Linked DNA regions of Homo sapiens. The protein of the gene in region 1 interacts with the protein of each later gene in a pairwise test. Each region holds a gene or a part of one and is shown in the gene's direction. Other genes may lie near its edges.

Region 1 (3,431 bases):
CAGATTGTCACAGAGCATATGTCCTGCATGCACACACATGTATCCAGGGCACCGCCTGCCTGGCATGTGTTAGTAACTAATTGTTATTCATTTAATGAATTGATCAAAACTTGATATTTTTGTACAAAGAACATTTATCGTTCAGTATCTTCTTTCCTGCATGCTTTTCAGCAAATGAGATAAAAGACCAATTTTTTTTTTTTTTTTTTTTTTTTTTTTTTTTTTTTGAGATTTTTCGCTCTTGTTGCCCAGACCAGAGTGCAGTGGCGTGATCTCAGCTTACAACTTCCACCTCCCAGGTTCAAGCGATTCTCCTGCCTCAGCCTCCCAAGTAGCTGGGATTACAGGCACACTACCACCATGCCTGGCTAATTTTGTATTTTTTAGCAGAGATGAGGTTTCACCATGTTGGCCAGGCTGGTCTCAAAGTCCTGACCACAGGTGATCCACCTGCCTTGGCCTCCCAAAGTGCTGAGATTACAGGCGTGAGCTACTGCACCTGGCCAATAAAAGACACATTTTAATTAAAATAATGACATGTTTCTAAAATATTCTGAAATAGAAGGCACATCACAGAATTTAAATATTTTTCAATAAAATCTGTAATCAAACCATAGTTCAGCTTCCTCTGGGATATTGTGAACTATGTTTAAAATGCGACCGGAATTTTCCACTGCTGTTCATATTTTTAAATGCTTAGAATTAGAAAAATTAGCCAGGCATGGTGGCACATCGGGAGGCTGAGGCAGGAGAATCTGCTTGAACCTGGGAGGCGCAGGTTGCAGTGAGCCAAGATCACACCATTGCACTCTAGCCTGGGCAACAAAAGCAAAACTGCGTCTCAAAAAAAAAAAGAATTAGAAAAATTTTGATGTCTTAATTTCTAATAGGGTTAGACATCAGAAGTAGTAAAATTTCTAGCTACTGCCTGCATGCAAACCACTCTTAATAAATTCCCAGTTTATCAAAAAATAGTTTGGGAAATGAAAAACAGCAAATTTCTTGAGCAGTCAGGGCAACACTGTATATTCCATAGTGAAGTGCTGTATATTCCATAATGAGTTTGCACTTTTCAAATAACTAAAACGCATTTAGCACTGAAACTGGGCTAAGCAGAATTTATTTTTTCTTTGGTTCAGAATTTCAGAATCGTGGACTACCTCCAGGTCTTTCTGAACATCAGATGCCGTTCTAGATATAAAACAGAGACCCGGCTGGGCGTGGTGGCTCATGCCTGTAATCCGAGCAATTTGGAAGGCTGAGGCTGGGAGGGGGGTGGGGATCACCTGAGGTCAGAAGTTCAAGACCAGCCTGGCCAACATGGCGAAACCCTGTCTCTACTAAAAATACAAATATTAGCCGGGCATGGTGGCAGGTTCCTGTAATCCCAGGTACTCGGGAGGCCGAGACAGGAGAATCGCTTGAACCCGTGAGGCGGAGGTTGCAGTGAGCCGAGATTGGGCCACTACACTACAGCCTGGGCAAAAGAGTGAAACTCCATCTCAAAAAAAAAAAAAAAAGCAGAGACCCAGTGTTTGAGCAATGGGTGGTTTGGATTTAGACGCACAAGAGATGTGGATGGATTTAGACACAGCTCCCCGCTGTGGCCCGGCTGTAACTGTGTTCTGTTTCCTCCCCAGCCCAGCGACTTCTCCGTGTCCCTTAAAGCGTCAGGGAAGAACAAACACTTCAAGGTGCAGCTCGTGGACAATGTCTACTGCATTGGGCAGCGGCGCTTCCACACCATGGACGAGCTGGTGGAACACTACAAAAAGGCGCCCATCTTCACCAGCGAGCACGGGGAGAAGCTCTACCTCGTCAGGGCCCTGCAGTGACGGCGCCCCGGCCCCACACTCGCCTCCCGGGCCCCACGGTGGAGCTGCCCGCCCGGCCTTGTGGCAGAGGCTCCTCCCGCGGGGACGGCCCCGACGGCTTCTCTGCGAGTCTCTCTTTATGTTCAGGTCGCTTGGTCGGTTCGTCTCCCATTTGCCATCCAGGCCTCACACCCACACTCGAGCCCACCCGGCCGGCCAGCTTTAGAGGAGGGGAGGAGCAGGGCGAGTTCACATTATTCCTTTTCCATCGGAAGTGGCGCTCGTGCATTCAACTCGTTCCCGCTCATGGAACCCCTCTTTAAAAAGACGCAGGGCACCTGTGAGCGCAGGAGCGAGCCTAAGGCCACCCAGCGGCAGCGCCCGTGTCCTGGGCACTCAGCGTGCTGGGCAGAGCAGGTGCGATGGCCCCAGTCCTAGCAGCCCTCGCCCATGTCCTGTGCCCTTACATGGCTCCCGGACTGTGCAGGGAGCCGATACGTTTGCTGATAGCAATACTGGAACCACCGGGTGCGATGGCAGTGAGGAGACTGCCCAGTGCCTTTGGGGCTGTGCTTGCAATAAAGAATTTCCTGGAAAGGCAGTCTGCAAAAGAGGGAACCGGTGACTCAGAAAGACAGATGTTTTGGTAATTTACCCCAAATGTGCCATCCACATAGTGCTTTTTCCTCTTGCCCTTCGGCTTGTTTGAATCTCACAATTATGTATTTAATTCTCAAAGAAATATGTATCTGTAGCCGTTTGTTGACACTAATACAGATGATTAAGGAAAACAGCTGATCTTTGGGGAAGGGAGCTACCAACACTTTATACACACACACACGTGCACACACACACACACACACACTATATATATATATATTATTTACAGGGAAATTTTTCAGGGTTTACAAAAGAGTATGTGATTGGTAGTAAGAGACACACAGAATGTTTATGAAGAAATTGCATTTTCTTTTTCCTTTACATTTGAACTTCTTTATAGTTTAAATATAACGTCTTGAGATGGCACATTCCTACGATTGAAGAAGGGGTCTTGAGATCCCCTAAACTTGCATACCCAGTTTTTTGGATATTGTAATAAAAAAAAGTATTATGACAAGGCTCTGTGTGTATTTATCTTTGGGAAAACTCAGACTCAATCATGGGAGAGTAATTACTGAAGCATTCACTCATTGCGGAGTGGAAATCATTTTTAGAGAAGAGCTTAACATTTATTACTTGTGTGTTTTCATTTTCTACCCCCACATTTTTGTATATTGAAATAATGAGTTTTAATTAGTGAAACCCCAAGGGAACCCAGAATCTCAAGCTTGGTCTGAACTTTGCTCTTTGGAAAATATTTGTTTAGAAATATGTTGCTGAACTCTTGGCAGCCAGCGCTCTCACACCATGTGTCCCCCACGACTAACTCTCGATTTGTCCTCTTGATCGGGAGCATTTATATTGATGTGCCAGGCCCTGGGGGTGCAGAGTCACATGACTTGGCATTTGTGCCCTCCTAGGCCAATCACGTATCAAGCGCTCCCTCTGCACCATGCACTGCGCCCCCATTTGTTCCTCATCACAGCCCCATGAGGTGGGACCTGCTATCATCCCCAT
Region 2 (3,500 bases), on another chromosome or scaffold:
GCATAACAGTAGCATTAGGAAGTACAGTCCAGTAAAATCATGGGAAAACAATGCATTAGATATTTTCCAGATCCATTTGCCTTGTAGGTCATCCCTAGAGAGGGCATGAAGTTTTGCTTCTGACTGAGCTGGAACAGGCTGATTTCTACTTCAAAAGACCTCTTGATTTTGGATCTCCTATGACAAGGAAATATGGTTTCTGGCCCTAGCATTGCTTGCCTTAGTATATTCCGGAGTATATTTGAACATCAAGAGGACTCTAGATCGTTCCAGCCTTTGCATGGGAAATGAACTGGCCTAAAGTTCCTAACCTTGCATCCAAGAAACTGAAATGTGTGCAAAATGGTGCGCGCATGTACATGTATGGGAAGACAGTTCGTAATGTTCTTCAGATAAATCAAATGACCCCACCTGACCCCACTGATGATGTGAAACTCTGTCAGGCTTGCCCTCTGCCTGGCTTTATCTATACTCAGATTTTGGGGACCAGGTTGGAACTGGATTGGCTTTCAAACATTGGAGACAAGTAGCCATGTCCTTCTTTATTAGATTTCGTCTGAATCAATACTTTAATTAAAAAATAATGTATAATTGAGGAGTAATAAACAAAGGCAGTATAGCAGAATGGCTCAGATGGGTTTTAGAGTCAGACAGAGGATGGAATCCTAACTGCATCACTTAGTAACTTGATGACTTAAAACAAGTTTTTTCGACTTTCTAAGCCTCAGTTCCCTGTTTATGAAGGGAAATGGTAACTGCCTCATGGGGTTTTAAATAGATTAAGTAACTCATGTAAAACATTACACATAGTGGTAACCTATAATCAGCACCAATACATGGTAGCTGTTATTATTTTGAATGGTTTTATGATTGTTGGATGTCACTGCCTTAAAAACAGGAACCCATAGACTCCTGACAATATGGGTTTTTTTCTTTTCTTTCTGTTTTTTTTTGTTGTTGTTGTTGTTTTTGAAACCAAGTCTTGCTCTGTCACTCAGGCTGGAGTGCAGTGGCGCAATCTCAGCTTACTGCAACCTCCACCTCCCAGGTTCAAGCGATTCTCCTGCCTCAGCCTCCCAAGTAGCTGGGACTACAGGCGCACACCACCAAGCCCAGCTAATTTTTTGTATTTTTTAGTAGAGACGGGGTTTCACACGTTGGCCAGGCTGGTCTCGAACTCCTGACCTCAGGTGATCCACCTCCCTCAGCCTCCCAAAATACTGGGATTACAGGCATGAGCCATCACACCTGGCCCAATATGTTACTTTTTAATCAAAAGTTATTTTCAGGTAAAAGAGGTTCCAGGTGTGACTAAATGAAGATACACTTTGGTGTAAAGTCACATTTTAACTTACACCAGGAAATCCATATTTTTGTTGTTTCAGTTGTGACCTTAGCTATGTCATTACTTTACCTACCCATTTATTTTTCTGAGTGATAGCACTTGAATAAAAATAGGTATTTCCTCCAGTTTTCCCTTAGAAAAAGTTTAAAAAGTATTTGTGATATCAGACACAAATAGATGTTCAAACCACTATGTGAGAGAAGCACTGTCCTTGAAATTGTTCTAAGCATTTGAGTATCCACTTGCCCCTTTGACAGAAGCTTCACTCCTCTATCCTTTCAGCAGTAATGAGTAGTGTGCTGCTCTCCTCCTTTGTCTTCAGGGCAGCAGCTCATCCCAGCTCCAGTCGTGGACTGTCCAGCCCTCCTTTGAAGTGATCTCAGCACAGCCACAGCTCTTATTCCTTCATCCACCTGTACCATCTCCTGTCAGTCCATGTCACACTGGTGAGAAAAAGTCCGACTCCAGGAACTACTTGCCCATTCTGAATTCTTACACCAAAATAGCCCCACATCCAGGCAAAAGGGGCCTTTCCCTTGGCCCAGAAGAAAAAGGAACAAGTGGAGTGCAGAAGAAAATCTGTACTGAGAGACTTGGGCCTAGCTTGTCTTCCAGTGAGCCAACCAAGGCTGGTGCTGTCCCATCCAGTCCCTCGACGCCAGCACCACCCAGCGCCAAACTTGCCGAGGACTCAGCTCTGCAGGGTGTGCCCTCTCTGGTGGCAGGTGGAAGTCCACAGACTCTTCAGCCGGTATCCAGCAGTCACGTGGCTAAAGCTCCCAGTCTGACCTTCGCTTCCCCCGCCAGTCCTGTCTGCGCATCAGACAGCACTCTCCATGGGTTAGAGAGCAACTCTCCCCTTTCACCACTGTCCGCTAATTATAGCTCACCTTTATGGGCTGCAGAGCACCTCTGCCGCAGCCCAGATATCTTTTCAGAGCAGCGGCAGAGCAAACATAGGCGCTTTCAGAATACCCTAGTAGTCCTACATAAATCTGGTTTGCTGGAGATCACTTTGAAAACCAAGGAGTTGATTCGTCAGAATCAGGCAACTCAGGTAGAACTAGACCAGCTAAAGGAGCAAACCCAGCTGTTTATAGAAGCCACCAAGAGCAGGGCCCCTCAGGCTTGGGCCAAGCTGCAGGCATCTTTAACACCTGGGTCCAGTAATACAGGCAGTGACCTAGAAGCATTCTCTGATCACCCAGCCATATAGCACAGAGGCATATTTTCCTGTTACTTGAGTGGTTCTTTTAGCTCATTTGCTGTTACCTACTCCTGTTTCCCAAAGCTTATGTAAGAGCTTTTCCTTCTAAACTTAAACTGTGTTGTGGTTCACTTAGGAAGCCACGTGCCAATACCTGGCTGCTGTCTTAACTCGTAGTCTGGGCACAGGATACATATGTCCCCGTCCCACTGAGGACCTCAGTTTGGGAGTGCCCTTGAGCCCCTTTTCCTTAGCCTGCAGGTGCTTCAATGGATCATGGGGCAAAGCAGGAGATGATTGTGTGGGGCTCTTCCTGCTGTCACCTCCCATCATCCCACTCTCTCACCAGGATCAAGGGTACAGTAACACGAATGAGCATACAGAGCAACACCTGTTGAGCCAGGGAGTAGGTGACACAAGGAAACCTTCATGGATCTTCCCTTGCCTGTCTTAGTCACAGAGAGAAATAAGAGGAGGTTGTTTGCATCCCACAAGGCATCGTACTAGTTGGGCGAGACCTAAAATTCCCTGGGCACAGGTTGCACCTGGGTGTGAGCACTTAATCACTCAACGCTTTGTTTTCTTACACTTGAAAATCAAGGGAAAGAGTAGTACCATCTGACTCCTACACTTTCATTACAAGTCAGATTTTTCTTAAACTAGCAGGCAAAAACAGTACTTCCAAATTTTAAGGTATGGAATGAATGCAGTACATCTGGAATTGTAGTCGATGAATTGCTTTTTTGACTTAGAAGCTGAAGAAAATAGACATAGCCGGCATATCTCATGGTCAGGAGCTGGACGATTCTGGTAACTTAGGCTTTTTTTCTCTCTTCTTTTGAAACAGTGTAACCTGTTTTATGTCTAAAAATCTTAAGGATAGTTTCAGTGGTTCCTGGGATGTAGTATAAGTTAACTCTGCTGCCATCTTGTTTTTTTTTTTTTTCC

Evidence for each region. Proteins that work in one complex are often made in the same cells at the same time.
Region 2: the proteins of NCK2 (region 1) and CIPC interact in binary tests that used the Homo sapiens proteins (3 or more experiments, as listed by UniProt).

Annotation. Positions count from the first base shown.
Region 1 is NC_000002.12:105,891,342-105,894,772, forward strand, and holds the end of NCK2 (cytoplasmic protein NCK2), read left to right. Parts: intron 1-1,640; coding exon 1,641-1,835; 3' UTR 1,836-2,931; downstream 2,932-3,431. UniProt on the Homo sapiens protein: Adapter protein which associates with tyrosine-phosphorylated growth factor receptors or their cellular substrates. Maintains low levels of EIF2S1 phosphorylation by promoting its dephosphorylation by PP1.
Region 2 is NC_000014.9:77,111,758-77,115,257, forward strand, and holds part of CIPC (CLOCK-interacting pacemaker), read left to right. Parts: intron 1-1,667; coding exon 1,668-2,561; 3' UTR 2,562-3,500.